Linked DNA regions of Homo sapiens: regions 1, 2, 3 and 5 are each linked to region 4. The links come from fine-mapping of genetic effects on gene expression. A gene starts in region 4. Each other region holds a variant in brackets. All regions are shown on one strand. Distances are from middle to middle.

Region 1 (5,109 bases), 86 kb before region 4:
ATGAGGCCCGGCTCCTTCTAATAACCTACACTCAGATGTGGGAGCAAAGAAATGACTTAAAGTTGGAATTTATAGTTAAACAGAAAGCAGAGCATAAAAGCTTAGAAAATTTGCAGCCTGGTCACATGGCAGATAAAGAAAAAGCTTTCTGGGGAGAGGAATTCAAGCTGGCTGTGAAGCAAGTACTTGCTACAGAAATCTGCATAACTAAAAGAGAGCCAACTGCTAATAGCCAAGAGAATGGGGAAAATGTCTGGAAGGCATTTTGGAGATTTAAGTGGCAGCCCCTCCCATCACAGGCCCTGAGGTCTAGGAGGAAAGAATGGTTTTGTGGGCCAGACCCAGGGCCTCACTGCCCTGCGCAGCCTTGGGAAATTGCTCCCTGCATCCTGACCCCTTGGCTCGATTTGTGGCTCAAAGTTCCCGGATACAGCTCAGGCTGCTGCTTCAGAGGGTGTGAGCTCTTCGCCTTGACGGCTTCCATGTGATGTTAAGTCTGTAGGCATACAGTGCAAGACTGAATGAGGCTTGGCAGCCTCCATGTACATTTCAGAAGATGTATGAAAAAGGCTAGGTGCCCAAGCAGAAGCCTGCTGCAGGGGCACAGCCCTCATAGAGAACCTCCACTAGGGCACTGTGGAGGGGAAATGGAGACCCCACACAGAATGTTATCTTGTTTTATATTATTCTTGTACATGTCCTGTCTTAGACCTTAGATGATACCTTTCTTTTTTTTCCTTTTCTTTTTATTTTCTTTTTTTTTTTTTTTTGGAAACAGTGTCTTCCTCTGTCACCCAGGCTGGAGTGCAGTGGGGTTATCTCAGCTCACTGCAGCCTCCACCTCCTGGGTTCAAGCAATTCTCATGCCTCAGCCTCCCAAGTAGCTGGGGTTATAGGCACGTGCCACCACAGTTGGCTAATTTTTGTATTTTTAGTAAAGACAGGGTTTCACCATGTTGGCCAGGCTGGTCTCGAATTCCTGGCCTCAAGTGATCCGCCTGCCTCAGCCTCCCAAAGTGCTAAGATTACAGGCATGAGCCACTGCATCTGGCCTAAATTTCTTGATGGTAATAATGTTCTTATTTACAGATGTAGTGAACGTATTAATGAACACCTACTGTGAGCCATTATTATTTTTATTCATATTAACATCACACAACAAAATCACACAACTAGTCATCCTGGTGGAGCCAGGGCTATTATCTAGGCAGTTCGACTCCAGAAACCTGGCTCCAAACCACTACCTTATGCTGCCCTCTCATGTGTGGGCGCTCAACAAGTACTTGTTGAATAAGTGAAATTTAACCCAGGCAAGCTGGGTTAGTATTTCTGAGCTAAACACAGTTTCTCAGAAGACCACACAAGTGTTTAAGAGGTCACGAGAAATGACTGGCTAACCATAAAAAAAACAAAAACAAAAACAAAAAAACACGACAGAACCCCAAACTGAGACTCCAAGTTAGAAGGCTTGTCTAGCGCACCAGTTTTCATGCACCTGGTTGGCTAAGAGGGAAATCTTAGATGATGAATGGAGGGGAACACACAAAAAAAAGTGGGATCCAAAGCAATGGGCAGTTTTCCACATCATTATAGCCGTATTTTGTAACAATTTCTTTGGCAACTGACAGCAGGCATTTAAATCAGCTATTTCCTCCTCAGAATTCCTCTCCAAAGAATAATAATGGCCTCTGCAGCTCTGAAGGAAATGTAGCCCCTACTCGGATACAATCTTATCTGGGAAATTGCCGTGGTATTCGTCACAGCTGTCACTGCTCTGAGCCCATTAAAGATGTGCTGAGTGTAGATCCACAGGGTCCTGTGCTCGGAGGAGCCCTGCTACACATTCTTCCCAGGTTTCAGCAGAAAGACAAAAACCACTCGGTGTGCTGGGGGCAGAGTCTCCTCAGAGCTGGGTCAGCACGAGAGAGCCATTCGTACAGTCCTAAAGAAGTTACTCTATGGCTCGGGTTATAGATATAGAAAGACACTTGCAGTGACACCATTGAGATGGGCAGAACACAAGAAAGAATTTATGCAAAAAGCCCAGATTTTTATTTCTTTATTTGGAGAGCAAAAGGAGAGCTGAAGACCTAAAACATTGGGGTGAGGGCGTCGGCCTTGAGACTTTGCACCAGAGTTCTTCTCAGTTTGTTTTAGTTGAATAGTGAGCTGCTTCAACCTCTATTCTTTA[C/T]AGTAAAAAGCTGAAAGTCTAATCCTTGATGATATGTCATTTAAGAAACTGGAGCACAGACTGACTGGGGTCCCACATTTAGCATCCAGTAGGACCTGAGGTGCCAGAAGTAAGACCAATAGGACTTTCTAAAATTTGGTTCTGCAAGGAAATAATGCTTCTGCAAATCCAATGTAATGTTTCTTCATACAAAGTACCCCAGATCAGATTCTCTTTCATTCTAACATTTATATTTGTTTTTAACCCACAGTTGCCTTTACAAAGAAACAGGCATGAAAAATAGCCTTCCACTCAATATGCCAAGGAAGATAATTTACTCAGAAATTACATTGTCCTGGAAACTAATTTACTGCACAGCTTAAATGTGAGCAGCTTATTCCCAGAAAGTTATTGACTCACCTTGACTCAAAATAAGATCAAGTATCTTTGCCATCCACAGCACAGAGTTTTCTAAGCCAGAGACCCCAGGACTGTGTATAACTTACTCTCTAAGATAGCAAGCCACTTGGAAGTCACTACGGATGTGCTTTACATCCACCCTTCTCAGAACACAAGACCCTCCCTAGATCCCTGAGGATTGTGGGCATTCCTAGCACACTCCAGAGTTTTACTTTTTTGTTTTGTTGGTGAGGAGGCAGTTATGCAAAGGTGGGAGAGAAGTGAGCTCGGGTAACACCACCACCATGATAACTGTCATGAAATTTCATCAATTCTTTCACTGCTTTCTGTTTGCTCACCCCTCCCCGACTCTCTCTGTTGTACTTTCATTGTAAGAGAAGAAGCCATGTCTCTGTTCCCACCACCATTCCTGACCTGGAGCGAACATTCAACAAACGTTTGTGGACTGAATGAATGATGGGACTTTACTCCATTTCATCACTTCCCATTTTCCATTCTCTATTTTTCCTCCTTTTTTGCTGATGGTTCACTCTTTATTTTTTTGGAAAGCCAGTTCTAAGATAAACAGTAGCAAAAGCAATAGCTGAAATAAAGACAAAAGACTTAGTTTCTTTGAACTGTTTTTATTTTACAATTTGATATTACATTATTAAATTATGTTACTGTTTCCTAACACATTTTCCTTTGTGTAACTCACTTATCACCATTTGGCTCCTTGTAGGTGCATAAAATAATTTTCTCTTTGATTGTAATGAACTAGAGTAAGGGTACAACTGTCTATGCAGCTCTACTCAAGTGCCTAGTAAAGTAGTGTAATCACAAATGTCTCTGAAGAATGACTGTAGATAAATGACAATGGCACACAAATACAATGGAAAAAAGCACATTAGAATTACTGGCATGCTAAGAAAAGCTATATACTGTATTTAACTTTTGTGCTATATTTACCTAGTCCTCACAGCTTTTATCTTTTTTTTTTAAGAGAACATTTTGAGTTTACAGCCGTGATTTTATCACTTTTTAAACTTATATTATTATCCCTACCTGCACTATATCATAATTAAGTATACTTCATTTGTACCCCCAATTAAATCCATGTGTAACATAAAAAATTACTCTGTATTAATTTTAAGTATATTGAATGCTGCCTTTTATGTAAAGGTCTGCATTAAAAGAGAGTATAGTAGTATTCTAAAGCCAATGAAACTCCATCATTTATATCTTAATTGAGATGTTTGGACATAGATGTACTTATATAAACACAAACTAATTTAAAGTTTTCTTTTTAATTTTAAGCTTAATATGATTAAATTAGTTATGGAATAATCAGTTGTACTATAATCATATTGTACTGTTCAAACTGAATGAAATATACCTCCCTTTATTTAAAAAAGTCTGCAGAATTGATTAAATAGATGACAATGTAATTTCCATTACAAGTGCTTTTTCTGCCATCTAGTGGAAAAATGAAATCCATGAGGATTCATAATTTATATGTTTTAATTCTATTGTCTTTTAAACTATTTAGGAAAGGCTTATTGGAAATCTCAAGAAAAGAAAACAAAACGTTGCATTCCCTCCCTATTTCTGATTTGGTCTGCAGGTAGACCAGCTGTGGATCACCTTAAGCATTCCTCATGTTGCCAAAGAAACTAAATACAGAAAAAGGTAGAGGGAACTCTCTTAATTAATTAGTTGGGGGGAGGTGAGTTGTTTATTTTTAAAGACTATCCATTTGCCCAAGCTTTTTCAAGGGCTGCCTTACTGTCTGGTTTTTGCTTGTGGAAGTATTTTTCTTAACCATTTAAATACCAGCTCAAAGGCAATTCCCTTGCAAAAAACTTGCTTGGTTCCTGGTGGAATGAACTCCCATGGCTTGCTAACTATAACTCCAGTTCCTGTTCAATGATTACACCATCCTGCCAAGTTCTATGTTGTAATTCGGTGAGTCTGTCTCACTTGATTGTGAACATCTTGAGGACAGGGAACATGTGCTGTTCATCTGTCTAGTCTGTGGTACTATTCCAGACAATGAATATATGAACACACTTGCTGCATGTATCATTTTAAATATGTAGAACTGGAGCCTACTAAAAGCCATTTCTAATATAGGGCAGCCAGGTCTTACATGGGCTATTCTGGGGTATATACATAGATTTCAGAGCTGGGATTTGACTAAACTTCCTAGCTCGGATTATTGATTCATTTTATCAACCCTTTTTTTTCCCCAGCATGTACTAGGTAAAATATGCTGCTGACAATTCCAAGAAGTGGAAAAGCTAGCTGCCATCCTTATGTATGAAGGCCCTGTTGGGTGCCTTTCTCTCTGTGTTCCTGGAATGATCTGTACTTTCTTCTATCATAGTGCTTATTCCTGTACTGCATGTATTGTCTCCATGAACTCCTTGAGGATGAGAAGACTGTCTTATCCATTTGTATTTTCAGCAACTAATATACTGTCTGCATATAGCAGAGGCTGAGTAAATATTTGTTGAATAAAGAATCATGAAAGATACAAA
Region 2 (5,109 bases), 210 kb after region 4:
ATCCTGGCTAACACAGTGAAACCCTGACTCTACTAAAAATACAAAAAATTAGGTGGGCATGGTGACGGGCGCCTGTAGTCCCAGCTACTCGGGAGGCTGAGGCAGGGGAATGGCGTGAACCCAGGAGGCAGAGCTTGCAGTGAGCCAAGATCACGGCATTGCACTCTAGCCTGGGCGACAGAGCGAGACTCCATTTCAAAAAAAAAAAAAAAAAGAATCAGGATGGCATCAGAGTTTTCAGAAATTTGATTTTAGAAGACAGAGCAGTAATACCATGAAAGCATGTTTCTTTTACAGCACCAGCACCCTCTCAGAACATTAATAAATTGTATGCCATCAAATAACAAACAGAATGAGGGAGGAAGGAGTTCAAGACTAGCCTGGGTAACACAGTCTCTACAAAAAGTTAAAAAGTTAACTGGGGACAGTGGTAGGTGCATGTGGTGCCAGCGGCTCAGGAGGCTAAAGCAGTAGGATCCCTTGAGCCCCAGAGTGAAGGCACTGTGGTGAGCCATATTTGCACCACCGCACTACAGCCTGAGCAACAGAGCAAGAACCTGTCTCAAAAAAAAAAGAAAAAAAAAGGGAGAAAGGGAGGTAGAGGCCGGAGGCGGGGAAGGGAGAGAAAGAGAGGGAAGTGGAAGAAATAGTGGAACTTGCCAAAGTGTACAATAAAAAGAAATTTCAGTCTTAAAAGCAGTCAGTACAGAATTAATCTCAGCAAACAACACGATTAAGAAGCTAGATAATATTAGGTAATAAGGAAAAAGGCGTACATTGTTTCTATCAATGAGAAAACAAAAGGGCAGAAACTCTGAAAAGAGGGGAAAAAAATATTTGTTGGAAAGTTGAAGTACAAATAGGAACCTAAATCAATGGCATGATTTTTGAGCAGTAGATACAGTATAAGAAAAAGAATCCAGTCAAACTTAGTACTTAAAACATTCTTCTTTGAGCATCACAGTTTCCTTTTCTGTAGTCACATTCTCTGCAATAAACAATATTTACAAATAATGAGGCAATGCTGCAAATAAACCCACTGACCAATCAGAAAAATGATAGTTATAGAAGAGGAAAGTAGAATCAAAAGGCAGGGAGATGAGATGCCAAACTCAAATGCAAACAATGAGAGCGGAATCTGAAATACGAGATGAAGCCAATACCCAGAAGCCAGACACAGGATAAGAACCGAACCAGGTTAGAAGCAAAGCAGAGGGCTTCAAAATGATTTCATCTTACCAAAGGATTTCTCTTCGTAGTGACAAAAATGTTTTCTAATTATTGCCTGTTATGTTGGATTGTTTCCTGTTTGCTTTGTCAGTTTGTGAATTGGGATCTCATGAATCATGATCATTTCATTGTAATAGTAGCATCAACTAGGATAGGACAATTTATGTCAAAAAGGTCGGTGTAAGACATATTCAAATACTTTCATGGCTGTGAACACTTAATATAATAAAGAGGTTCTTGCGGACAGGTGCGGTGGCTCACACCTGTAATCCCAGCATTTTGGGAGGCTGAGGTGGGTGAATCATGAGGTCAGGAGTTCAAGACCAGCCTGGCCAAGATGGTGAAACCCCGTCTCTACTAAAAATAACAAAAAATTAGCCGGGCATGGTAGTGGGCACCTGTAATCCCAGCTACTTGGGAGACTGAAGCAGAGAATTGCTTGAACCTGGGAGGCAGAGGTTGCAGTGAGCCGAGATCACACCACTGCACTCCAACCTGGGCGACAGAATGAGACTCCGTCTCAAAAAAAAAAAAAAAAAGTTCTTTCTAATTTTGTTTTCCCTTCAGCATGATCCCACGCCTATCTCCAAGAATACAGCCAGAAAAATACATCATTCATTAAAGAGTAAAACATTAAAACAGTGCGACATGGGTGCATAAATAGACAGACTGTAGAAACAGAGTTTTAAAGTCCATAAATAAATAATATACTTACAGCAGTTTAGTACATTATAAAGATGGCATCAGTGGGGGAAAAAATGGTCTCTTCAGTACATGATGTTGTTATAGGAGAGCCATCTTGAGGGGACAGATGTTGTATTCATATGTTTTACCATAAGCCAGGATAAACTTTAAACCAATCAAAGATCTATATGTTTGAAAAAGAAAAGAGGCTGGGCACAGTGACTCACGCCTGTAATCCCAGCACTTTGGGAGGCCGAGGCGAGTGGATCACGAGGTCAGGACTTCAAGACCAGCCTGGCCAAGATGGTGAAACCCCGTCTCTATTAAAAATACAAAAATTAGCTGAGCGTGGTTGTGGGTGCTTGTAATCCTAGCTACTCTGGAGGCTGAGGCAGAGAATTGCTTGAACCTGGGAGGCGGAGATTGCAGTGAGCCGAGATCTTGCCACTGCACTCCAGCCTGGATGACAGAGCGAGACTCCATCTCAAAAAAAAAAAGAAAAGAAAAACCACAAAAGTAACTTAAGAAAATATAGGAAAAAAACATGGAGAAGACCACAGAAGAAAAGATTGACATATTCTGCTACATCACAATCAAATGTTCTTCATAACAAAAAAAAAAAAGCGGGGGGGGGGGGTCATAAACAAAGTCAAGTAAGAGGTAAACTGGAAAAATTGCCACTCATATTAAAGACAAAGGGCTAATTTCCCTAACATATAAAGAGCTCCTTGAAATGTATAAGAAAATGACCACTCAGTAGAAAAATGGGCCAAGGCAATCAACTGAAAAAAAACCTTCAATATATTAAAAAAAAAAAAAAACTGCTCAACTTCACTGTAAAAGGAATGCAAAATAAACATACACAAACCCTTATCAGACTGGCAAAAATCCTAAAAGGTAACAGAAGCTTACATTTTATCAATTATAAAACTAAAGCTCATTGAACTAGATTAGGCAGCCTAAGTTTAAACAATAATAATGTCAAGAATAGATGTGTCGTTTGCTAATAGCTTTATACTAAAATAGTACCACTACATGTGCTTAGCCAGGTGCAGTGGCTCATGCCTATAATCCCAGCACTTTGGGAGGCCAAGGCTGGAGAATCACTTAAGGCCAGGAGTGAGAGACCAGCCTGAGCAACATAGTAAGACCTCATC[T/G]CTACCAAAAATTTAAAAATTAGCTGGGTGTGGGGGAATGCCCCTGTAGTCCTAGCTACTCAGGAGGCTGAGGCGGTAGGATGGTTTGAATGAACTGTGATCACACCATAGCACTCTAGCATGGACAACAGAGCAAGACCCTGTCTCTAAAAAAAAAAAAATTGAAGTGGAATTTTCTTGGTTCAAATTTACCATCGATATAAGTTGGATCATTATATAAGCCAAACATAATAAAATTGAAAATGTGTTCTAAATGTTATTTGGGTACCCACTGTAGCTGTATTATCCTAATAAGAATTTTACAGAATTTTGCTGATCTTAAAGTGTTCTTTGCCTGGATTTCAGAAACTGCTAATATTTTTTGTACAGTCACATTAACGAAAGTGGTACTGTGACAACACCCCAAACTGGGGTGATCTTAGGATAAAGCAAAGATGTGAATTTCCCTTCTAATCTCCTGACCACTAAACCCCCCTTTACCTTATTTATCTGTAGAATAGTGCTAGATTGTTTTGGAGGGGATTTTTGCTCTTATTTTATCTTCATGCCAAAGATAGAAAAGTTGTGGCTAATAAAGAGATGTTCTTTCAGATAGAAAGTTTTTCTTTTCATAGGCTTTCCCTTCTACTTATCTTGGTAAGTAGAACAGGAGCTGAAATCTACCATAACACCATACCCATTTGACATCAAATCAATAATTATATACTTCACCATAGTGGAGCATATAAATGAAACAACATAATCTTGAAAGCAAAAAGAGTCCCCAAATGGCCCAGATAATCATATATCAGATTGGCAATGTCTGCAAGTATATGCATTCTCATGTACATTGGCCAAGCCAGGCCCACTACTGCAGAAAGGAGAAAGGATTCTGACACCATTTCTTCTGACACGTCTCGCAACCCTAAAATCTATTAAGGTTATATGGCTTAAACTCAGCAACACTGCTTTAAAATACTCACTCAAGTTAGATGGTTCTAAATAGAACTAATGACAGCCAGAAGAGAAAGGCCTGTAGGAACTTGCTGTGACACAGAGCTGGTGTCTATAAACAGATTAGTAGAAGAGAGCAGAACATTGTTCTATCACCATAACTTTCGTGTTTTGGCATGAAGATACAATAAGATAATAGGAAAAAATTACCTGTTACATAGCCTACCACTGTTCTGTTCTGATAAATAAAGATTAAGAAGAGTTTAGCCTGTCATCTCTCCATATACTTGTATATGATGTATCAATTTAGTAATTAATCATAAATACCCACTAGTGTTATGTACTAAAGATTTGTCTATGGATATGAAAGACAAATACACTTGGGAGCAAGAACGGGTGAAATTTTTGATCTCTTCAAAAAGTTCATCACAATTAATTCTTAGTTCAAAGGGCAACTGAAGCCAACCCCACTTATCATTTGTAAAAGGATAAGGGATAATACAGCTAAAGAAATCCTGAATCTGTATTAAACTTACTGTTTAACTGCTGACTAGTAGCCAAGATTGGATTCTTTTTCTCTACCATCTTTATATAAGAATTCAAAGGAAATGCGACAGTTTAAAAGAAGAAGAGAAAAAGTTAAATGCTTAAATAGTCTACTCAGCGAATATATGTGGAGCATCTACAGTGGAAGGTAGCTATGCCAGTGGTTCCCAAATTTGTCTGTCTATTAGAATCACTTGAGATCTTCAAAAATTCCAAAATACAAAAAAATTAGCTGGGCGTGGTGGCATGCGCCTGTAGTCCCAGCTACTCAGGCACTGAGGCAGGAGGATGGCTTGAGCCCAGGAGGTAGAGGCTGCAGTGAGCCGAGACCACACCACTGCACTCCAGCCTGGGTGACAGTGAGATCCTATCTAAAAAAAAAAAAAAATTCCAAAGCCCAGGCCACACCACATCAATTATCTCACAGTCTCTGGGGTTGGGACACAGTCATCACTGGCAATATTTGAAGCTCCACAGGTGATTTCAGTGTGCAGAAAAACGTGGAAACCACTAGACTATAGAATGTTGTAATTGTCAGTTATATTAAATGAGTATTAAT
Region 3 (5,109 bases), 45 kb after region 4:
ATAAGTGCAGGCTAATAATAAATACAGAAAGAGGATCTTAAAATTTTTTTAATACATCATCTTTACCATTTTTAAGTGTACAGTTCAGTGGTAATAAATATATCCTTTTTGGGAAAGAGGATCTTTATGGTTGAAATCCAAGCAATAAATGTATATGCATGTAAGAATGACCATTTTGTAGCCGCATAATAATATTGATTCAGAATCATCATTGGAATATAAAACCATGAAGTATAAGTATGTTAGGGAATAGGATATTTACACAAAGCATCTCTTCACAATTACTTACTAATTTTAAAGGGCAAAAGGATACCTTTATAGTTAAACTCTGGCAGATGCTACCTTAACCTAGTGATCAAAGTTACTATCACCAATAATGGGATAAACTGACGTCACATACCTCAGTACATCTTCACATAACATACTGAGAATGCGTTTCTGTATCAGAGAATCATTTCTGAGAATCATTTCTGTAGTATTCCTGCCCAAGTGCCTAACCTGAATCTAATAATGAAGAAACTTCAGACAAGTGAAAATTGAGGAGCATTCTATGATGCAGCTAGCCTCTGCTCTATAAAAAGTCATAAAACACAAGGAAAACTAAGAAATCTTCAAGGTTAAAGGAGACTAAAACCCCATGACATCTAGATGCATGGTAATAGATTATAATATGATGATAATAGATCCTTGGATTACCATTATGGTAATAGAGCCTTGGCTCAGGGAAAAAAAAATTCACAAAGGGTGTTTTGGGAGACAGTTGACAAAATTTGAAAATGGATTGTATGTTAGATAATATTATATTAGGGCTAAGTCTCCTGAATATGATAATTATACTGTGATTATATAAGAGACTATCTTTAATCTTAGTAAATTCACACTAATTATTTAGGGATAAAGGGACCTAATGTCTCAGTTGAGGAAACAAATGCACATGTATGAGTATGTGTGTGTAGGTGTGTATACACATATAGATACATGACCCTTGACCAACATGGGGTCCACTTATATTCAGGTTTTTATCAACCTAACACCAATCGAAAATACAATTTTCACGGGATGTGAAACCTGAGTATACAGAGGACTGACTGTTTGGTGGGATCTGCAACAACTGCAGGACTTCAGCATGTACAGATTTGCATATTCAGGTTGTGGGGGTGGGTCTGGAACCCATTCTCCACATATACCGTTAAGACACCTGCATATATTCACATATATTAACAAGAGAGAGGGTTTGAATAAATATGACAAAGTAATATTTATTTAATATTACAAAACAAATACAACAGTGTTAATGATTGGTAAGTAAAAGCATTAAAAAGAACCAAGCTGGTTACAGCGTGTCATGTCTGTAATCCTAGTGCTTTCAGAAGCACAGGCAGGAGGATCACTTGAGCCCAGGACTTTAAGACTAGCCAGGGCAATATAGCAAGACCGTCTTTACAAAAAAAAAAAAAAAATTAAATTAGGCACATGGTGGCATGCACCTGTAGTCCTAACTCTCTGGCAGGCTGAGGCTGGAGGATCACTTGAGTGCAGTAGTTCAAGTCCAGTCTGGGTGACATAGCAAGACCCCCATCTCATAAAAAAAAAAAAAAATTTAAAAAAAAGATTTTTTAAAAAATTGCATGTGAAAGCACAAAATAAAATTTAAAAATTTTTTTAATTAAAAATAATCTAAACATTCTAAAAATAAAAAAGCACAAAATACGTATAGTAATATGTATCAGAATAGTAATACTGATAGTCATCTTTACTTATTGGGTTTGTAGGTGATTGTTATTTTGTGCTTTGCTCAGTTTTTCTTCAATAAACATAATATTTTGTTAACTAGAAGAAAAAAGGCTTTCTAAACGTTTTTGAAAAACTGATGCAAAGGAAAACAATTCCTAACAGCCCTCTCTGTGGAAATACCAGGTGGGTCAGTGAAATAAAGTGCAAAGGCACTGCTTCTGACTGCAGGGAAGTAGTTAAGAGTTAGTAAATCTGTTTCTCTGCTCATTTTAAAAAATGTGTGTTGTAGGTTTTAGTCCAATTCTTGGTATAACTTTTTTGGGGAACTTGTCTTAAAATGGAAATTAAAATCTGGGTAATCATAAACAATTTGTGAATGAAATAGTCACAAGAATGCCTGCCTACGTATCTACTATGCAATCTAAATGATAAGTTGTATTTTTTTTTTTACCTTAACTGAACTGAAAGCCTAGAGCCATGTATACATTCTTTAAAAGTTTTAACCTCAAGATAAGATTGAAGATGACTAATGAAAAAATACCAAATGTATGTTAGTAAGTTTTATTATTTACTGTACTGGCTTATGTAGTTTGTATATTCCTTAAAGGTAATAAATTGATATGTATGTATTTGAACAAGGTCTGAAACAGAGTCCCTTCTAAATCTGAAAAGTAGGTACTTTATAGTTCATGGAATTACACTGAAGCCCCATTGCTAGTGTCTCTATTCAGCGTCCTAATACATAGTCAACCCTTTTAAAGTGTACGCTGTACAAGGGGATGTAAAATTTACATGTCTCTTTGAATTTTATTTTAACAGTGAACGTGATGCACTTGAACAGGAAGTAATTGAGCTTAGGAGAAAACATGAAATACTTGAAGCCTCTCACATGATTCAAACAAAAGAACGAAGTGAATTATCAAAAGAGGTAAGCTTATAATTAGAGTCACTTATATTATATAGCATAGTATTAGTGAAAAAAATAGCCCAGAGTAGATTTGAAGGAGAGACATTTTTTTTGTTATGTAGTTCCTCCCAAAAAGATAA[ATTT/A]TTTTTTTTTTTTTTTTTTTTTTTTGAGACAGGAGTCTTTCCCTGTTGACCAGGCTATAGTGCAGTGGTGCGATCTTGGCTCACTGCAACTTCCGCCTCCCAGGTTCAAACGATTCTCCTGCCTCAGCCTCCTGAATAGCTGGGATTACAGGCGTGTGCCACCATGCCCTACTAATTTTTACATTTTTAGTAGAAACAGGGTTTCACCATGTTGGCCAGGCTGGTCGCAAACTCCTGACCTCAAATGATCCACCTGCCTTGGCCTCCCAAAGTGCTGGGATTACAGGTGTGAGCAACCATGCCCAGCCCCAAAAAGAGACTTTTAGTAGCTATTTTTAGATTTTAAAAAAGTTGCATGCTAAGAATTAGCCCTTTTTAAAAGGAAAATTTTCATGTGGTGAATGAAAACATGAAGGAAAGAAATTAATACAGTCAAGCTTGAAAAGTAAGATGGCATCACTGTGGATACTTTTTGTTTCTACATGTATGTAGGTAGTCACCTTAGAGCAAACTGTTACTTTACTGCAAAAGGATAAAGAATATCTTAATCGCCAAAACATGGAGCTTAGTGTTCGCTGTGCTCATGAAGAGGATCGCCTTGAAAGACTTCAAGCTCAACTGGAAGAAAGCAAAAAGGCTAGAGAAGAGATGTATGAAAAATATGTAGCATCCAGGCAAGATTTGCATTATTTCCCACGTAAATAGATACCAATTAACAGATTTTCTTTGAGGGAACTCTTGGCTTTGGGGAAGATTTAGTGATTTTTTTAAGGTCTATTCTATATGATAATACTAAGATAATACCTTATTTTATTTTATTTTATTTTATTTTTTGATTTTGACATTTCTGCTTTCTGTTTGCATACATTTAAGTGGTGTAATTTTCCCATGTGCCTTTATTTTAAAACTTTGTCATTTGGTTTTAGGTACGTTTCTTGAATACAGTAATGAGCTGATGTATCCATTAGGATAATTTGGGTTGCAAATAATGCAGAAGGGTTTAAAAAATGAAGTGAGATATGTTTGCTTTTTTTTTTTTTTTTTTATAAATTATACTTTACGTTCTGGGGTACATGTGCAGAATATGCAGTTTTGTTACATAGGTATACACATGCCATGGTGGTTTGCTGCACCCATCAACCCGTCACCTACATTAGATATTTCTCCTAATGTTATCCCTCCCCTAGCCCCCCACTCCCCGACAGGCGCCGGTGTGTGATGTTCCCCTCCCTGTGTCCACGTGTTCTCATTGTTCAACTCCCGCTTATGAGTGAGAACATACGGTGTTTGGTTTTCTGTTCTTGTGATAGTTTGCTGAGAATGATGGTTTCCAGCTTCATCCATGTCCCTGCAAAGGACATGAACTCATCCTTTTTAATGGCTGCATAGCATATATATTCCATGGTACATATGTGCCACATTTTCTCTATCCAGTCTGTTATTGAAGGACATTTGGGTCGGTTCCAAGTCTTTGCTATTGTGAACAGTGCTGCAGTAAACATACGTGTGCATGTGTCTTTTATGTTAGAATGATTTATAATCCTTTGGATATATACCCAGTAATGGGATTGCTGGGTCAAATGGTATTTCTAGTTCTAGATCCTTGAGGAATTGCCACACTGTCTTCCACAATGGTTGAACTAATTTACACTCCCACCAACACTGTAAAAGCATTCCTATTTCTCCACATCCTCTCCAGCTTGTTGTTTCCTGACTTTTTAATGATTGCCAGTCTAACTGGCGTGAGATGGTATCTCATTGTGGTTTTGATTTGCATTTCTTTAATGACCAGTGATGATGAGCATTTGTTCATATATCTGTTGGCTGCATAAATGTCTTCTTTTGAGAAGTGTCTATATCCTTTGCCCACTTTTTGATGGGGTTGTTTGGTTTTTTCTTGTAAATTTGTTTAAGTTCTTTGTAGATTCTGGATATTAGCCCTTTGTCAGATGGATAGATTGCAAAAATTTTCTCCTGTTCTGGAGTTTGCCTATCCACCCTAATGATAGTTTCTTTTGCTGTGCAGAAGCTCTTTAGTTTAATTAGATTCCATTTGTCAATTTTGGCTTTTGCTGCCATTGCTTTTGGTGTTTTAGACATGAAGTCTTTGCCCATGCCTACATCCTGAATGATATTGCCCAGGTTTTCTTGTAGGATTTTTATGATCCTAGGTCTTACATTTAAGTCTTTGATTCATCTTGAGTTGATTTTTGTATAAGGTATAAGGAAGGGGTCCAGTTTCAGTTTTCTGCATATGGCTACCTAGTTTTCCAAACAACATTTATTAAATAGGGAATCTTTTCCCCATTGCTTGTTTGTGTCAGG
Region 4 (5,109 bases):
CCTCGCAAGTAGCTGGGACTAGAGGCATGTACCACCATAACCAGCTAATTTTTGTATTTTTAAGAGACAGGGATTTTCCAGGTTGGCTAAGCTGGTCTGGAACTCCTGGCCTCAAGTGATCTGCCCACCTCAACCTCCCAAAGTGCCAGGATTACAGACATAAGCCACCACGCCCAGCTGCTAATGTTTTAAGCTCATCAGTGAAAGACACAGTCATAAATTTTTGAATTGGTTTTAAACTTGGGTCTTTCTGCACTGAAAAACAAGTGATGTTGCTATTTCTGGATTTCAAGGAGGTACTAACAATAAGAAGCCTACAAGGGCTTTACTGGTATTCTTTACAAGAACATTGAAGTTTGAGATATAAGAATCAAGAAAGTTGAGATATTAAGGTTTTTAAAAATGTGCATAATCTGATGGAATTTCATTACCAGAAGTCTACACTCTAATCCAATGGTTCTCAATTGAGTGAATTCACCCCTCAGGGCATTTTGTATCATTACAACTGAGTGGTGGTGGTGGTGGTGGTGGTGGGGGGGGTAAGGGGTGGTGATCCTGCCAAATAGGCTAGGAACACTGTTAAACATACTACAATGTATAAAACAGCCTTTCCACCACAAAAAAATTATTCAGTTCAAAATATCTATAATGCCAAGATTGAGAAGCCCTGATCTAATCCAATAAAAGTACCATACTCATCATAGATTATTTATGTAATATAACGTAATAGGCAATATCATATTTTTGAGACCACACACTGAGTTCAAAGGTCTTGAATCTAAAAGCACAACAAAGAATTATATTCCTGGCCAGGCACGGTAGCTCATGCCTGTAATCCCACCACTTTGAGAGGCTGAGGCAGGTGGATCACGAGGTCAGGAATTCGAGACCAGCCTGACCAACATGGTGAAACCCTGTCTCTACTAAAAATACAAAAATTAGCCTGGCATAGTGGTGCGTGACTGTAATCCCAGCTACTCAGGAGGCTGAGGCAGAAGAATCGCTTGAACTTGGGAGGTGGAGGTTGCAGTGAGCAGAGATCACACCACTGCACTCCAGCCTGGGTGACAGAGTGAGACTCCATCTCAAAAAAAAAAAAAAAAAAAAAAAAAGAATTCTATTCCTTAACCTAATCTTGCTCAATGTAATCAGCTGCAAAGTATTAAACTTTTAAAAAGACCATTAAGAATAAATCTACTTTCTATTTTTAAACAAAATAGAAACTTCACAAACTCATATATTTTATTACCCTCTGTTAGTTGTTCACATAATATGGTATTCCAGGAACTTAAGCAAATCTCATCTTCCAAGATTCTATGGTCCAACTCATGCTAAAACCAATTCAAAATGAAAACATTTTGGAAATTAAAGTACCTATTGTAGTCTAGGAGTCAGCAGACCTTGGTTTTAGGCTTGAGCCCATCAATGCCTGTGTGACCTTAGAGAGATCCACTTAGCATTATCTTCTGCACAGCCATGTAAGAATTAAATAAGGTATGAAATCTATCACTTATCTTCTGACAATGTCATAAATTACTCACAGGAACCCTCTCCCGAATTTTGCTAATCCTGTGGTTTTCTGATATTTAACGTAATATTCCTCCTACCTATGGTGCTCATTAGTGAAAGTATAGAAATGCTTCTCTTGGTTATTAGTCACATCTCGGATGCGTTTATATACGGGGGCACTGCGATTTCTCACTTCTTGAAGAACTGTTTGTAGCACAATTACATTCCTGATGGCAGGGTCCTCAAGAACATCAATCTTAAAGAAAGATAAAGTTAATTTTTCCTATATTCATTTGTAAATAGCTCTGTCAAACATAAAATCCTGTTTTATGTTGGGCATAAATACTTTATGTTTTAAAAACACTGAATAAGTTAAGCCAAGAAGCTATTTGGCTATAGAAAACGAGACAATAGTCACTAAACCCTTCAGATCTATTAAAAAAAGCACACTTAAACAGACCAATCACAAGACTTCGTAGAATTAAGGGTATTAATAAAGGAATACGTTGGCCCACATAGTTTTTTGTTCCTAGGCACTTACAAGCTGCCTGGGAGTCGCAGGCTGGAGGCCACAGAAGCCCAGGTCCCCGGCCTCCAGGCACTTACAATCTAAGGCAGAAGAGACACCAGGAGTTAGAAAAATAACGTGTCTGAACTACGACTCCAAGAACTAAATTTTTTAAAGCACAAGGAAAAGAACCTCGGCCTGGGGAACAGGAAGCTTCGGTCCCGAGGGGGTTTCCCTTTCGCTAGGTATGTGACACTGCCAAAGACCCGCCTCCCTGGGCCTCAGTTTCCCTGTCATACCCCCTTGTCCCCGTGGGGCCGCGCTGTCCGCGGTTCGCCCGCCCACGCACCTGGTGCAGTAACACATTAGTGTCGGGCAGCAAGTAGTGCGGTTGCGGGCAGACGCTGCTCGCCGGGTCCTGGGGCTGCGGCTCCAGGGCCGGCCCCTCGTGCGCCCCTCCACACGCTGCGCACCCGGGCGCACCGCAGCCGATGTCGTCTCGCAGGTAGTGCTCGCGCACGATCTTCATCACGCCGCCCGCCCGGGTCTTTTTTAAGAACGTCTTGGACTTGAGCATCTTGCCTCGCCGCGCAGAATCCTAACCCCAGCAGCGCTCTTCCAGCAAAAGGCGTCAATCTAGAATACGCCTAACCCCGGAGGTTCTTCCCTTTCCATTCCCGGATATTAGTAACACTTCTCGCGGGAAAATGCCGAGATAAACATTGGTTGGCTCTCTGACGGCCGCGGGGATTGGGCGAGAGTGGGGAGGGGCGGCAAAGCAAGGCGAGGAGCCATTTCCGCCCGTGGCCTAGGCGGGGCTTCCTTCTGGACGCCACCTCACAACGTGTGTTGCTTTCCGCTCCTCGGAACATCCGGGAGAGTTGACTTCCGGCGGCTTGTGGGAGTGCTGGTTCTGTCCTCCTTGCGGGTGCGGAGATGGTTGTCTTGGTTACGGGTCCTAACGGTCCCCTGCCTTGAAATCCCTTGTTGAGGGCCTGCAACCTTGTGCTTCCGACCGGAGACGCCTTTGGTCCCTCGGTGTCTGCACTGGCTGCTGGTCAAGGCTTCAGTGTGGAGTAATTGACACTTTCGAGGTAACTTGCGACTATCATCGCTTTCTTTCCCGCGTGGGGCAAGGAATCCCCCGAGCTGCCAAGTTTGGGGCTTAATTTTCACGCCGAGTGTATAGGCAGTCCCCGTCTCGGGCCCTTTGTAATCGAGGAGAGAATTTGTCTTTGAATTCACTTTTTCTTACCTATTTCCCTTCAAAAAGAAGGAGGGAGGCCGATCTTAGTATAGTTCTCGCTGTTTCCCCTCCACACACCTTTCCTTATCATTCAGTTTAGAAAAACTGAAATATTTAATAGCATAATTTGTTATATCATGAGGTATTAAAACAAGGTAGTTGCTAACATTCTTATGAGAGAGTTAGAAGTAAGTTCTATTTAGAATTTCTTGAATTTTTCTTATATCCTGTTGTTTTCATTCTGCTATCTATAAAAAATGTTTTTGTCCCCGTTTTCCCTATTTAAAACATCTTCAATGATGCCTCATTGCCTGTAGAATAAAATCCAACCCTATTTTGACATTTAAGGCCTTCCAGTCTTGATCGTTAAGGGCGTGTGTGTGTGTGTGTGTGTGTGTGTGTGTGTTTGTGTTTGTGTTGGGGGGGCGGTGAAAGGAGTAACTATTCCAAGACTTGGCTTTGTTTTTTTACTTCCACTTACGTATCATTAATAACTGCATGATTTCTCCTTTTTACCATGCCTGTCCAAATCTTTAAAGATTCTAAGTGCTACCTCTGTGTAACGTTTCCCTGACCAACTCAGACGTGATTTCTGTTATCTTTGAGCATGTGTTGGTTTTAGTGGTGCCATTCTTGATTATAATGGGCTTTTTTCTTCATCTTGTACATTTCTTTGTTTCCTCCAAGTAAGATTCCTCCCCGCAGGAACTGTTTTTTTAAGTTTCTCGAAGGCTGACTTCATATTAGGAATTAATGTGTTTGATTTGAGCATTAACTTAACTGCAATAATCTGTTCTAGATTTGGGATGCACTAAATTGCCTAATATTTATTTAAGGAATCCTTAGTCTCTCTTTAATACAGTCCATGATTTCTGTAGTTAATTTTATAGTACATTTGAATTAATGTTTTTTAACCTACAGAATATTAAAATCAAATTAGAGAAGAAAACTGATCCATAATAATAAAAATGTCTCGAAAAATTTCAAAGGAGTCAAAAAAAGTGAACATCTCTAGTTCTCTGGAATCTGAAGATATTAGTTTAGAAACAACAGTTCCTACGGATGATATTTCCTCATCAGAAGAGCGAGAGGGCAAAGTCAGAATCACCAGGCAGCTAATTGAACGAAAAGAACTACTTCATAATATTCAGTTACTAAAAATTGAGCTATCCCAGAAAACTATGATGATCGACAATTTGAAAGTGGATTATCTTACAAAGGTAAGATCAGGTTTAAATTTTGTGTTCTATATGCTTTATTGTCTTCAAACGGCAGGTAAATAAGAATTAAATACACACATTATCTGAACTTGAAATGATACATTTATATTTCTTGACAAGTACAGCCTTTAAATAATTTTGGTGTTCATAGAAGTAGAGAATAGAATGGTGGTTACCAAGGGCTGGCATGGTTAGGGGTGAAGGAGGGTTGGGGAGATGTTGGTCAAAGGATACATAATTACAGTTGAATAGGAGGAATACATTCAAGAGATCTATTGGACAGCATGGTGGCTATAGTTAATGACATTGTAATCTTGGAAAACATTGTGTTTTTGAAAAACACAGCAGATGTTAAGTGTTCTCATTACTAAAATAACTATGTGAGGTAAAACATTTTTTAATTAGCTAGAGTTAACCATTTCACAATGTACGTATACTTCAAAACATTATGTTGTACATGACATATACACACAGTTTTATCTGTCAGTTGGGATCACCTGAGGTCAGGAGTTTGAGACCAACCTGGCCAACATTGTGAAACCCCAGCTCTACTTAAAAAAAAAAAAAAAAAAAAATTAGCCAGCCATGATGGTGGGTGCCTGTAATCCCAGCTGCTCGGGAGGCTG
Region 5 (5,109 bases), 160 kb after region 4:
AGCAATTTGATTATCATTTGGCTTTCTGGAGTTTTCTTCATGTTTCCTATGCTTGGGTTTTGTTGAACATCTTACATATGTGAGTTTATCAAATTTATAAATTTCTTAAATTTTTAAATACTTCAATCCTCTCACCTTCCTTTGAGGACTTCAATGAGATATATATTAGGTTGCTTAAAGTTATTCTACAACAGAACAAATGATGTTCTCTTCAGTTTTTTTCAGTCTTTTTTCTGCTTTTCTTTTGAATAGCTTCTTTTACTGTGTCTTCCAGTTCACTAATCTTTTTTTCACCACTGTATAATCTGCTTTCAGTTCAATCCAGTTTTTATCTCAGATATTGTAGTTTTCATTTCTAGAAGTTCAAATTGGATCTTCTTTGTGTCTTTTAGGTCTCTCCTTAACATTCTCAAACTTTATTTTCTGGAATATGTGAAATATAATTTCAATAACTTTTTTATATTCTTGCCTACTAATTCTATTATTTTGTCATTTCATGGCTGCCTTCAATAAATTTGAATTTTCTCATTATATATCACATTGTTCAGCTTCTTTGCATATGTAGTAATTATTTACTGGATGCCAGACCTTGTAAATTTTACCTTGATGCTATATATTTTGTATTCCTATATGTTTTTGTTAGCTTTGTTCTGGGACATAGTTAGGTTTCTTGGAAACAGTTTGATTCTTCCAAATCTTGCTTTTAAGCTTTTTTAGGCAGAGAAGGGTTTATCGTAAGGCCAATTTCTCCCCCATTACTACAACCAAACTCTTTGAGTATTCCATGTCCTGTAAATTGTAAGGTTTTCTACTTTGGCTGATGGAAATAAGCACTATGCCTTGCCCATGTTCACTTCAGAGATTGCTCCTACCAATCTTGTCTGTAGTTCTGTCTCCTGTCTTTATACATATGCACTGTTCTGTGCCAGGTAAATACTTAAGGGGCACTATCTGTAAATTGTCAGAGTTCTGTCTCTTTGCAGCTCCCTTTTCTTCAGTAGTCTCCCATATGAACTGTAACCACCTTGGTTATTACTTCTATCAACAGCTCCTTAACTCAGGGAATTTGACAGGCTCTGCCTTAATTCTCCTTCCCAGCACCACAGCTTGAAAGCTGTCTCTAGTCAATAAACTAAGGCAGTCATAGAGTTTACCTTGTTTGTTTCCTGTGTGTCAGGGATCTCCTTCATTGCATGATGTCCAATGTCTTTCGACCGTTGTTTTATTAGTTGGTCCAGTATAACAGAGAAAACAAGTTATTCTTTTTTGTGTATTTGTGTATACCCACTAATTCTCAAGAAACTGCCAAGTTTAGTTAAGAGTCAAGTGTCAGTGTGGAGTTTGTTAAACAGTAGAAAATCCAGAATCATAAAGTGTGCCACATTACTGCCAACAGTAAGGCAGCTAAGAATTGGTCTTTCTTAGCTGCCTCAAACCTTGATATATGCTCTCCTTCTAGTTATTCAGTAAATATTTATCAATTTCCCACTATATTCAACAACTGATGACAAAATAGACATGGTTTTTCACTTCTAACATAACCAACCTTATTCACAAAGGCCTTATTTTCTACTGTAAGCACGCAGAGATTTATCTTTTACAACTGACTTAATTTCAGGAAGCTTGTCTAGAAAGTGGGACATGCACAGTCATCAGTAACCACATGGCAAGGTTTAGCTACCTGGAATTTTGTACCTAGAAGGCATTGCTAGATTTGAAAGAGGCGTCAAGGTGCATAGGTAAAATAAAGTAGACCTATATGTATTAACTTTGAAAGAAATTTATACTGTATTGATGATTTTTCAAAAAACAAATTGCAGAATAATTTCTGTTTCTCTGTTTGGGTTTTAATATATTTGTGTGTGTGCATGTACCCAGCATATACAGAGAGGATGGGATTGTGTTTCTGTTTAAACATACAGAAAATGAAAAAAATCTGAAAATATGTCATGCAAAGGGGACACAAATACCACTAGTCATGGATTAGCAATATGAAATGAGCTTTATTGGTATAAAGTAAGTACTTGAAGTAATAAAACATTTATCTCTGCCCCTTGAGTTGCCTGACCCATTCTTCTGCCTCTAACAACTGCTAGGAGTGTTCTTCCAGCATCCCCAGTGAGCTCAGTCTCTTGGAAAGAGTCTGTGGCACATACAACTCACAGGACCACACCTCAACATTATAAAGGAGGAGACTCACATACCTACCATGTGGCCCTAAACAATCTAGATCTGATTAAATTTCAAGGTCAACCATATTTCTAAGACTTCAATGATG[T/TA]AAAAAAAAAAAAAAAAAACCCACTGTTTTGTGTACCACTGTGAGGAAGAGTGGAGGATGCTGCTGATTAAACTGTGATACAATGCTTTGCTATTACTTTAATTTTTTTCATTTTAGACATACTTTCTTTTAGACTTTAGGCAGTGATTTTTGTCCTATATTGCACAACTCTGTTTCTGTGTTTTTCTTCTGTTTCAATGCCGAATCCCTTGTGATCTTTTTAGATACTTAAATGACAATTGTACTCAGCCTATGAAGGACTAGCCATACTCAAAACTCAATTGAAGTAATAATATGAACAGCCAAGACCAATTTTTTCATGCATGGGCTTTATCAACAGCAATTATAAGATGTATGCTATTTTCATAGAAGAGATTAAAAACAGTATGATTTATAGGGTTCCTTTGCCTTTCAAAATGTTTGTCTGTTTGTTGATATTAAAAATCCTTTAGTAGGCTGGGCACAGTGGGTCACACCTGTAATCCCAGCACTTTGGGAGGTCAAGGCAGGCAGATAACTTGAGGCCAGGAGTTCGAGACCTGCCTGACCAACATGATGAAACCCTGTCTCTACTAAAAATACAAAAATCATCCGGGTGTGGTGGTGTGCACATATAGTCCCAGCTACTTGGGAGTCTGAGGCAAGAGAATTGCTTGAGCCTGGGAGGCAGAGGTTGCAGTGAGCCAAGATTGTGTCACTGCACTCCAGCCCAGGTGACAGAGCAAGACTCTGTCTCAAAAAAAGAAAAATATCGTTTAGTAAAGAACAGTGGCATTTATTTCATTACTAGAAATACAAGGCTTAAAAAATAACACTTAGATGAGATACTACATTGCCTGAATTTTTTTTTAATTTAGCAAGTGAACTTTAATTCATCAGCCTATCAAAAGTCTTTACCTTACTAGAATAATAGTAGAATAATAGTCACCAGAACCTGGGAAGGTGAAGATGGGGAATGAAGAGAGGGTGGTTAATGGATGCAAACATAAAGTTAGATAGAAGGAATGAGTTGTAGTGTTTAATTGCACAATAGGATGACTGTAGTTTACAATAATTTATTGTATATTTCAAAATAGCTAGAAGATTTGAAATGTTCCTAATACAAAGAAATGACAAATGTTTAAGGTTATTGATGTCCTAAATATCCCTATTTGATTTTCACATATGCATGTATCAAAATATCACATATACCCTATGCATATAATTATGTATCAATTTAAAAATTAATAATTTTTTAAAAGTTCCCTATCCAAAACTGTCCTCTGTGCTGTCAATCATGACTTATTTTTAAAGGCCCATGGCCTACAAGACAATGTCCAGATTCTTTAGCGTGGCATAGATGGCCAATTTGATTCTAATCTACTTCTCATCCTCATCTTCTGTCATCTCCCCTCTTCCCAAATCTTCACTTGCTGTCTCCTCCCACCACTTTGTTACCTTCGTACTCCTCAGTCTCCTTTGTTGACTTCTTTTTCTCTGATTATGTCTTAAGTGTTGACATGCCCCAGGGTTCTACCTTGTTTGTTTAGGGGAAAAGGGGAAAAAGCCAAGAACTTTCAAGTTAGGCAGACTGGTTATATGACTTTAGGCAAGTTATCTTTTTGTAAGCCTCAGTTTTCCAAAGTGTAAGTGGAAATAATAATACTATATTGCATGTTTGCTCCAAAATGAGAGAGGGTTCAATCTAAGATGAGCACTTAGCACACTAACTGGCATATGTTAATCACTCGGTAAATGTAGGATCTTATTTCTGTTCTAGAGTTTCATTTATTTTTCTCTTGCTGGCCATAATATTAATAAAATAAGTATTTTTCTTGTAAATCTGGCAATTTTTAAAGGAAATAATAGGTCCAGAATTGGAGTAAATAATGATTTTGCCTATATAGGAGTATTCAGAATAAGCCGGGTGTGGTGGCTAATGCCTGTAATCCCAGCACTTTGGGAGGCTGAGGCGGGGTGATCACCTGAGGTCAGGAGTTGAAGACCAGCCTGGCCAACATGGTGAAACCCTGTCTCTACTGAAAATACAAAAATTAGCTGGGCGTGGTTGTGGGCACCTGTAATCCCAGCTACTTGGGAGACTGAGGCATGAGAATCGGTTGAACCCAGGAGGCAGAGGTTGTAGTGAGCTGAGATTGCACCACCGCAGGACTCTAGCCTAGGTGACAGAGCAAGACTGTCTAAAAAAAAAAAAAGAAGAAAAAGAAGTATTCAGAATAAACAATAAAATCAATTTTAACACAATAGCAAAATGTTTAATAATAATTTAAATAATTTCTGCTCTTATCAAATGCAGAAGTGTATTTAATTGCATACAAACTAAGCATTTTAGGAGAAAAGTGAAAAGCTGCATTTTTGTTTTATTTTTTTTAATTAAGACAAGTATTCATTGATGAATAGTGTTTATATGATCAAAACATAAACAGTGAATGTTCTTGTTTTTTAATTTCAACTTTTATTTTAGATTCAGGGGTACATGGGCAGGTTTATTATCTGGGTTTTTTGTTGGTTGGTTTTTTTGAGATGGAGTCTTACTCTCTTGCCCAGGCTGGAGTGCAGTGGCATAATCTCGGTTCACTGCAACCTCTGCCTCCCTGGTTCAAGCGATTCTCCTGCCTCAGCCTCCTGAGTAGCTGGAATTACAGGCTCCTGCTACAGTGCCCGGCTGATTTTTGTATTTCTCTGGGTATATTATGTGATGGTAAGGTTTGGAGTTTAATTGCTACTGTCACCCAGGTAGTGAGCATCATACCCAATAGTTTTTCAACCCTTGGCCCCCTCTCCCTCTCCCCATTGCTAGTTCCCAGAGTCTGTTGTTCCCATCTTTATGT

Which allele goes with the higher level. Alleles are on the strand shown, and positions count from the first base shown. SD is a standard deviation of normalised expression in the study named. Not every link is listed here.
In carriers of allele ATTT in region 3, the expression in neural progenitor cells of the gene that starts at base 2,895 in region 4 tends to be higher than with A alone (moderate effect, 0.66 SD a copy in Aygun 2021).

Evidence for each region. PIP is the estimated chance that this variant, and not a neighbour inherited with it, causes the effect.
Region 1: its variant is the best candidate, but not a certain one, in a credible set for the expression of PIBF1 in whole blood (INTERVAL, PIP 0.83).
Region 2: its variant is the best candidate, but not a certain one, in a credible set for the expression of PIBF1 in whole blood (TOPMed, PIP 0.51).
Region 3: its variant is the best candidate, but not a certain one, in a credible set for the expression of PIBF1 in neural progenitor cells (Aygun 2021, PIP 0.54).
Region 5: its variant is the best candidate, but not a certain one, in a credible set for the expression of PIBF1 in whole blood (INTERVAL, PIP 0.57).

What each region holds. Positions count from the first base shown.
Region 1 is chr13:72,692,756-72,697,864 of GRCh38, forward strand. No RefSeq gene overlaps it. Among named protein-coding and RNA genes, the nearest start is that of MZT1, 32 kb to the right of the region's middle. The variant C/T (reference allele first, on the strand shown) is at 2,192.
Region 2 is chr13:72,993,549-72,998,657 of GRCh38, forward strand. The region is part of intron 16 of PIBF1 (progesterone immunomodulatory binding factor 1); the gene reads left to right. Among named protein-coding and RNA genes, the nearest start is that of KLF5, 63 kb to the right of the region's middle. The variant T/G (reference allele first, on the strand shown) is at 3,072.
Region 3 is chr13:72,824,457-72,829,565 of GRCh38, forward strand. It overlaps PIBF1 (progesterone immunomodulatory binding factor 1), which reads left to right. Exons shown (of 18, transcript NM_006346.4): 7 at 2,554-2,662; 8 at 3,277-3,458. Among named protein-coding and RNA genes, the nearest start is that of PIBF1, 45 kb to the left of the region's middle. The variant ATTT/A (reference allele first, on the strand shown) is at 2,782.
Region 4 is chr13:72,779,239-72,784,347 of GRCh38, forward strand. It overlaps PIBF1 (progesterone immunomodulatory binding factor 1), which reads left to right and starts at 2,895. Exons shown (of 18, transcript NM_006346.4): 1 at 2,895-3,111; 2 at 4,185-4,483. The coding sequence starts at 4,232. It overlaps DIS3 (DIS3 exosome endoribonuclease and 3''-5'' exoribonuclease), which reads right to left and starts at 2,662. Exons shown (of 21, transcript NM_014953.5): 1 at 2,367-2,662; 2 at 1,608-1,765. The coding sequence starts at 2,594. RefSeq lists enhancers at 1,854-2,768, 2,686-2,795 and a silencer at 2,356-2,405.
Region 5 is chr13:72,939,987-72,945,095 of GRCh38, forward strand. The region is part of intron 14 of PIBF1 (progesterone immunomodulatory binding factor 1); the gene reads left to right. Among named protein-coding and RNA genes, the nearest start is that of KLF5, 120 kb to the right of the region's middle. The variant T/TA (reference allele first, on the strand shown) is at 2,279.